Linked DNA regions of Homo sapiens. The protein of the gene in region 2 purifies or fractionates together with the protein of the main gene of each other region. This does not show direct contact. Each region holds a gene or a part of one and is shown on either strand. Other genes may lie near its edges.

Region 1 (3,500 bases), on a different chromosome or scaffold from region 2:
CACTCCAGCCCGGGTGACAGCGCAAGACTCCGTCTCAAAAAAAAAAAAAAAAAAAAGACAGGTTTTCGCTGTTTCCCAGGCTAGTCTTGAACTCCTGGGCTCAAGCGATCCACCCACCTCTGTTTCCCAAAGTGCTGGGATTACAGGCGCAAGCCACCACGTCTGGCCTGATTGTTTTTTTTTTTTTTTTTTGAGATGGTCTCACTCTGTCACCCAGCTGGAGGGCAGTGGCGAGATCACAGCTCACTGCAACCTCCAACTCCTGGGCTCACTCGATCTTCCTGCCTCAGCCTCCCGAGTAGCTGGGTTTACAGATATGAACCACTGTGCCCTGCTAATTTAAAAAAATTTTTTGTAGTAGAGAGAAGGGTCTCCCTATGTTGCCCAGGCTGATCTCAAACGTCTGGACTCAAGCAGTCCTCTCGCCTCTGCCTCCCAAAGTGTTGGGATTACCGGTATGAGCCACCTCGCCGAGCCCCTTATGATTTTCTTAGTAATGTTTTCTTTTCTCTAACTTACATTATCATAAGAATACAGTACAGTTGAGCTTTGAACAACACGGGATTGAACTGTGCAGGTCCACTTCTGCATAAATTTTTTTCAACTCAACTTAGAAAATACAGTGTTATCTGGATGTGAAATCTGCAAATATGGAAGGCCAATTTTTCGTATATGCAGGTTCTGCAGGGCCAACTGTGGGACATGAGTATACACAGATTTTGTTATATGTGGGGGTCCTGGAGCCAATCCCCCAAGTATACTGAGGGATGACTGCATATGATACATGTAATATACAAAATGTGTTAATTGTGTGTTTATGTTATTGGTATGATTTCTGGTCAGCAGTAGGGTATCAGTAGTTAGGTTTTTGGGGAGTCAAAAGTTATAGTGAATTTTTGATTGTGCGGGGCGGTGGGGGTTGTTTTCCTAATCCCTGCATTATTCAAAGGTCAACTGTGCTGATAATTAAAAGATCTCTTATGGATTCTGATGCTTTCTTACCACTGAGAATTAAAATAGCATCATTCTGAGTTTTGTTTTCATTAAAATAGTAAAAAACAATCAGGTTGTAGGTTCTCAAAGTTTACCTGTATGTATGTCTTTAAAACTTCAATAGAAACTTCCTCCTTCATAGGAAAAAAAGACATAATTATAAATACACTGCTTATATGAAAGTAACAAAATTTTTGATACAAATTCCATTATTAAATAATTTAATAATTGTAATGTTTACCACTGAGCAGTAACTATACACCAAGCTAAGTGCTTACCAAAGTTCATCTACTGCCTGATTTAACCTTACCATAACTCTTTTTGGGTAGTTACTATTATTGTTCACATTTTACAGAGGATGAAATTAGGACCAAGGGAAGTTTTATTTACCCAGAGTTACACAGATAGAAGCTGCTGAATAAGGGTATATACTCAGGACTCCTACTCCAAAGCCCAAGCTTTCAACTACTGTATCATTCACTTTCTACATGCACTCTGACCAAAATGTTATCTTCTTTTTTAGAAAAAAAGCAACAAAACAACAACCAACAAAGTTTTAAAATCTCACATAGCACTCACTTTGTTTAGTTAGCTTAGCTGGTTGATTTAAAGCTGGGTACAGACAAGGATAAAGTTATGAATTTATTAAAAACCAGTTAACCAACAGCATTCTGTGGCCACAGACTAGAACCCTAAAGGGCCACTCTCAGTGAGTTATCATTGAGTGACTATACAAGACTATATGGAAGACTTTTGATTCCTTATCACCATTTCTAGAAAACAATAATAAAAAAAGTAGTGTTTTCTTGACAATAGGTATATAGCATCAACATTACAGAGAAGAAGAAATCGTTCATTTTTATATACCTTGGTCTGTAGTCCCAGAGTACGGAAAAACAAAATAAGGTGAGTCATAAAGCGAAGCAGGTGTCCAGGTAGATTGTTTCTGCTTTTGGAAAGCCATTTGCTAAACTCATCCATCAAACCTACAAGCCATCAAAGTGAAGATTCAACAATAGGAATAAAATCAAAAGAAAAAAATAAACATTACCAAGAACATTTATTTCACTCCTATAGTGCTTTCAAGTCACTGTCTCATAATTAATAGCCATGATATAACTCTACACCCTCTTTGAAACAGAGTTTGGGTTCAATCCGAACTTTATTTTATAAAAACCAAATGAAAGGTCACCTCTGACATAAAGTAAATAGTTGCATTCAAATAGGTTAATATTTATCAAGATTAAAAGATATGGTAAGTCACATGCATTGTTTGGATAACTTTAAAAAATCACTATAAGACAATGAAGAACTCATAAAGAGTAAAATAAAACTGGCTGGGTGCAGTCGCTCATGCCTGCAATCCCATGTCTATAACATATAGCACTTTGGGAGGCCAGGGAGGGAAGATCACCTGACGTCAGGAGTTGGAGACCAGCCTGGCCAACAGCGAAACCCCGTCTCTACTAAAAATACAAAAATTAGCCAGGCGTAGTGGTGCACACCTGTAATCCCAGCTACTCAGGAGGCTGAGACTGAAGGATCTTGTGAACCCAGGAGACAGAGGTTGCAGTGAGCTGAGACTGAGCCACTGCACTCCAGTCTGGGCAACAGGGTGAGACTTTGTCTCAAAAAAAAAAAAAAAAACACACACAAAAAACACAAAGTAAAATAAAACCATATCTTACCATCAATGTCTCCCAGGATAAGAAACTTTTGAACTATATGATAATGTTCTTGATTCTCTTCCAGAACTCTCTGAAAAAAAAGTTTTTAATTTTCCATAAATCTTCTAGCAGTCATTCTGTAGTATATATTCACTGTTAAACTAAAAATGTTAAACTTTTGAAGGAACATATAGAAAGAAAAAGCTGGAAATGAAGGGCCTTAGAAAGATCAAAACAAAATAAAACATGGAAAGGATACTGCCTTTGGAATATACTCACAGCTTACAAATCCAGAACTGAAAAGCATCTTTGAAAGTAGAGACCTATGTTATAACAATTTAATCTCTCAATGGTATTAAACTTTTATTCTTATATTTTATTCCTATTTACCTTGGCACTACACATGGTGGACGAGAAAGGAAGAACTCATGTGACCTAAGCAAAATAAACTATTAAGATTTCTTTCAACATGAGCAGCAGTACATGAAAGCATTCTTTGAGTATTCTCTTCTGTACATGGCACCAAGGGTGAAAAAAAAAAATAGTGATCAGGTACAGAGTAGAGAAAACCTTTTCTAACTTATTTGCAGCTTGATTTTTTGAAGAATATAGTTCATTTTTTGTTGTCAAACGTATTTTAATTTTTATTTAGTTGGCTGTCTAAATTTTCTTTCAGCATTTATTAATTTTTACATTCAAACCTTTGCTCTATATGGAATTTATTTTAGTTACATGGCATGAAGTAGGATCTAGCTTTGTTTTCTTCTGGATGGAAAGCCAATTATGCCAGCGCCATTTATTTAAATAAACCATCCCTTTCCCTCTGAAATGAAATGTCAC
Region 2 (3,774 bases):
CCCTGAAGTTTTGAGCCCATTCCTGGAACACAGTTTGGGAAAGACAAAATCTGCAGGCTGGTGTGTTGGTATTAGGCTCTCCAAAGCCTGAGATCCACAAGGTCAAATATTGGAAACAGGCATTTCTTAGGCACTATGAATAATCTTTCCACTGACTTCTGAAAGCCTATATCAGGGATGGAAGCCTAGGGTCATTGAGGCACTGGGATCCAGGTTGAGGGCAGGTCAAGGCTGCTTGTGGTAAAGCTGGGACTAGAACCTCAGTCTGTGATCTCTAATCCGTTGAGTCCCCTATCAGACCAAATTGATTTTTCTTTGATAAAGCATTAACCTACTATTTCCCCAATTTCATTTTGAAATCATGGGTTGAGTCATGAAGAAGGCAGGTCATCTACCTATATAGAAGAACGCTGGGTCTACTGAAACATAGAGTGATTCCTTGCAGCTTCCAGAAGGGTTTGGGAGATTCAGTTGTGAATAATGCTAACACAGTTGCAATGTTAGATTAGTACAGGTTTACTTTTAAATATTTAATAATATAAAAGACTTGCATAGCTTCAATTCATTTAAGCTTCCCAATAATGGGTAAATTTTAAGTTTCCTGAAAAGTGAGATCATCCATGTAGACAATCCTGTTTTTGACATAATTGTCCAACGTGGAGGAGGAAACTTGTTAAGGCCTTCCATTTATCTTACCATCAGTGACAGCTGAGTCGATTTTCTCTTCTGGTGGGTATGCTTTGTTCCTTTTGGAAAATGCCTGGCTGATTTCTGCATAGGTTCTGTTTTTGGTCTCAGGCAGCACAAAATACAGGTAGATAGCACCTGTGATACAAATTGTAGCAAAGACTAGGAAACAGTAGGTGTCCAGACTTTTCTGTGGAAAGGCAGAGACAAAAACCCTCAAATAGATAATCAGTAAACTTGCTGTTAAACCATCTCTACACAGATTTTTAAGATAGCTCCACATTCATATACCAATACTCCTAGACAAAACACCATGTGTGATGCTGGCTCAATAAGGCAAGTGTACCCTACATGAAGTGTTATCACATAAGGCTTGAATAAATCAGCTTCAAACTCTGGGAAAGATGAGAAAATGGCACTTTTTTGTTGTTGTTGTTGCAAATTTGGCATTTAAAAATTAATCATCACGAAAGCAAAATGGAATGCTTGCTGAATATTAGCTTAAGCTTATATTTACAATTAACCACATTGTCTTCTTGCTTCTACTATACACATGAGACAAGAATGACATCAAAAGGGAAGAGAAATGCCTTAGTTCATAGGAAGAATGTGGAGCACAGAATAGGCCAAGGTAATGCCAGTTTTTTCTAATATGCAAATGATCTAACTCACTAATTGATACTCTGAGGCGGCCTTGCACAAATAAGAGAGATCAGAAAAAATAGAAATGCTCAATGCAATCACTCCGTTTTATGTATCCTGATTAGTGTTTGGACTAGAATAACCCTGCCAACTGCACTAGACCTTGAGCTTCTCAGTGACTCAGTCACCTCTGTAGCTCCTGTGCCTTATAGGAGGTACTCAGGACATATTTGTGGAATAAAAGACTTGAAATCCTAGCCTCAATCAATCTGCTTGCTTTGGTCTCCCAGGTACTGGGATTATAGGCATGAGCCACCATTCCAGAAATAAAAGACTTTCTGGGTCCCAGCTGTCAGGATTGTGACTATTATATGCAACAAACATCTACTGATCCAAAGATAAGGTGACACTGTCTTTGAATAATATTTCCCAAGAAGCAATATCCAGATTTTAGTCAATTCCATTCTATTCTTTGATTTGACAAACATTTATTTTTGGAGAATGGCAAAGTGCTTAAGCTTGATCCCTGGATCACATCCTAGATCTACCATTTACTAAATCTGAGACTCTTTGTCCCTCAGTTTCCATGATTGAAAAAGAGGATAATCATGGTACATGTAGGGTTGTTGTATGAATTAAATGAGACATTCCCTTTAAAGTGCCACATGCAGTAAATGTTCCACACCTGGGGGTGCTTAGCTCTTGAGACTGTGCCTTCTGCTCGTACAAAGACTTCAAGAGTAGTGTGGAGAAGGGGGAGAGTATGGGCTCTGAAGCCAGTCGAGTGGGATTCAAATCCTGATCCCATTACTCACATGTTGTTCTAACACTTATGATGTGCCATTTAAGATAGAATTTCAATCCACTGAGCATCTGTTTCCTCATTTGCAACATGGTGATATATACCCACACATTGTTTTGAAGATGAAATGAGATATATCAATTTTGCATTCAACATCCTCCACACCCCCATCTGCAGGCGGAATGGACATCTGACTTATCAAGTCCAAAGTGGAGCCTCTAAAACTGCCTGCTCTAGCCTTCCTCATCTCTGCTGATGGCACCTCCATCCTTCTGATTGATTATGCCAACAAAAACACTTGGAGGCAGGCTGAGCTTCTCTCTCTCTCTCCCACCCACATCTGCTCCATCAGGAAATCATGTTGCTCCACCTTGAAATGTATTCCAAATCTGAGGGTTTGTCATCACTTCTATTGTAACCTAATTTTGGTGCAAGCCACCATCATGTTTTGCTTGGATTTTTGCAATAGCTTGTCAACTGATTTCCCTGCTTTTCACTTTAAGCATAATCTTAAGATTATTCTTAACAGACAAGCCAGAGTGATCCTGTTAAACAAAGGACAAAACTTGTCACTCCTCTGCTCAAAACCCACCATGACTTCCTAAGTCACCTGCAGGAAAGCCAAAGTCCTCACCATGGCCTCCAAGGCCACCGACCATGTGTCCCTCTTATTTCTCTGATCTTACTCTCCTCACTTTCTTTGCCCCAACTCCACTGCCTTTATGATTTCCCTCCAGTATTAGGCCTCAGAATCTTTGCACATGCTGTTCTCTCTTGCTGGAATAATCTTCGTTTAGGCCTCTGTATATCCTGCTTTCTTACTCCTCTTCATCCGACTTAAAGGTCATTTTCTCAGAGAGGTTCTCGTTGACTCTCATTTTGAAATAGCCCCTCCCAGCCCTGCTTCATTGCCTTCAAAAACACTCATCACTATGCAGCATTATAGTGTGCAACTGCCTGTTTATTAACCTTCTCCCTACCAAGAGGTAACTATCTGAAGGCAGGAGTCATCATTTTTCTTGTATTCCCAGAGCCCGGAGAGTCTCTGATATACAGTAGATGCTCTGAGTATCTTAGTGAGTGGATGGATGGACTGAGGCTCAGAGAGGCTTCCTGCCGTATCCCAGGCCACAAACAGGGCTTCCTAGGACCTCTCTGACACCCACACAGCTGCCTCTTGCTTGGCTTTCTTTTCCCAAGGGACCTGATGGGTGTCGTGAGGATTATTCTCACAGTTTCACAAAATTCAGTCAAGAACATGTGGCTCAGCCGAGCACAGTAGCTCACACCTGTAATCCCAGCACTTTGGGAGGCTGAGGTGGGTGGATCACTTGAGGTCAGAAGTTCAGGACCAGCCCGGCCAACATTGTGAAACCCCATCTCTACTAAAATTACAAAAATTAGCTAGGCGTGGTGGCAGTCGCCTGTTATCCCAGCTACTTGAGAGACTGAGGTAAAGATTAAAACTGGACCCCCTCCTTACACCTTATACAAAAATTAACTCAAGATGCTTAAAGACTTAAATGTAAAACCCAAAACTATAAAAACCCTAGAAGAAAATCTAGGCAATACCATTCGGGACATAGTCACGGGCAAAGATTTCATGACAAAAATGTCAAAAAAAAAAAAAAAGAAGAGCAACA

What was found. Proteins that work in one complex are often made in the same cells at the same time.
Region 1: the proteins of SLC2A9 (region 2) and NUP107 purify together in Homo sapiens (affinity purification with mass spectrometry; one large-scale study listed by BioGRID and IntAct). This does not show direct contact.

Annotation. Positions count from the first base shown.
Region 1 is NC_000012.12:68,724,978-68,728,477, reverse strand, and holds part of NUP107 (nuclear pore complex protein Nup107), read right to left. Parts: intron 2,752-3,500; coding exon 2,682-2,751; intron 1,980-2,681; coding exon 1,861-1,979; intron 1,128-1,860; coding exon 1,089-1,127; intron 1-1,088. UniProt on the Homo sapiens protein: Plays a role in the nuclear pore complex (NPC) assembly and/or maintenance. Required for the assembly of peripheral proteins into the NPC. May anchor NUP62 to the NPC. Involved in nephrogenesis.
Region 2 is NC_000004.12:9,825,724-9,829,497, forward strand, and holds the end of SLC2A9 (solute carrier family 2, facilitated glucose transporter member 9), read right to left. Parts: intron 878-3,774; coding exon 674-877; 3' UTR 501-673; downstream 1-500. UniProt on the Homo sapiens protein: High-capacity urate transporter, which may play a role in the urate reabsorption by proximal tubules. May have a residual high-affinity, low-capacity glucose and fructose transporter activity. Transports urate at rates 45- to 60-fold faster than glucose.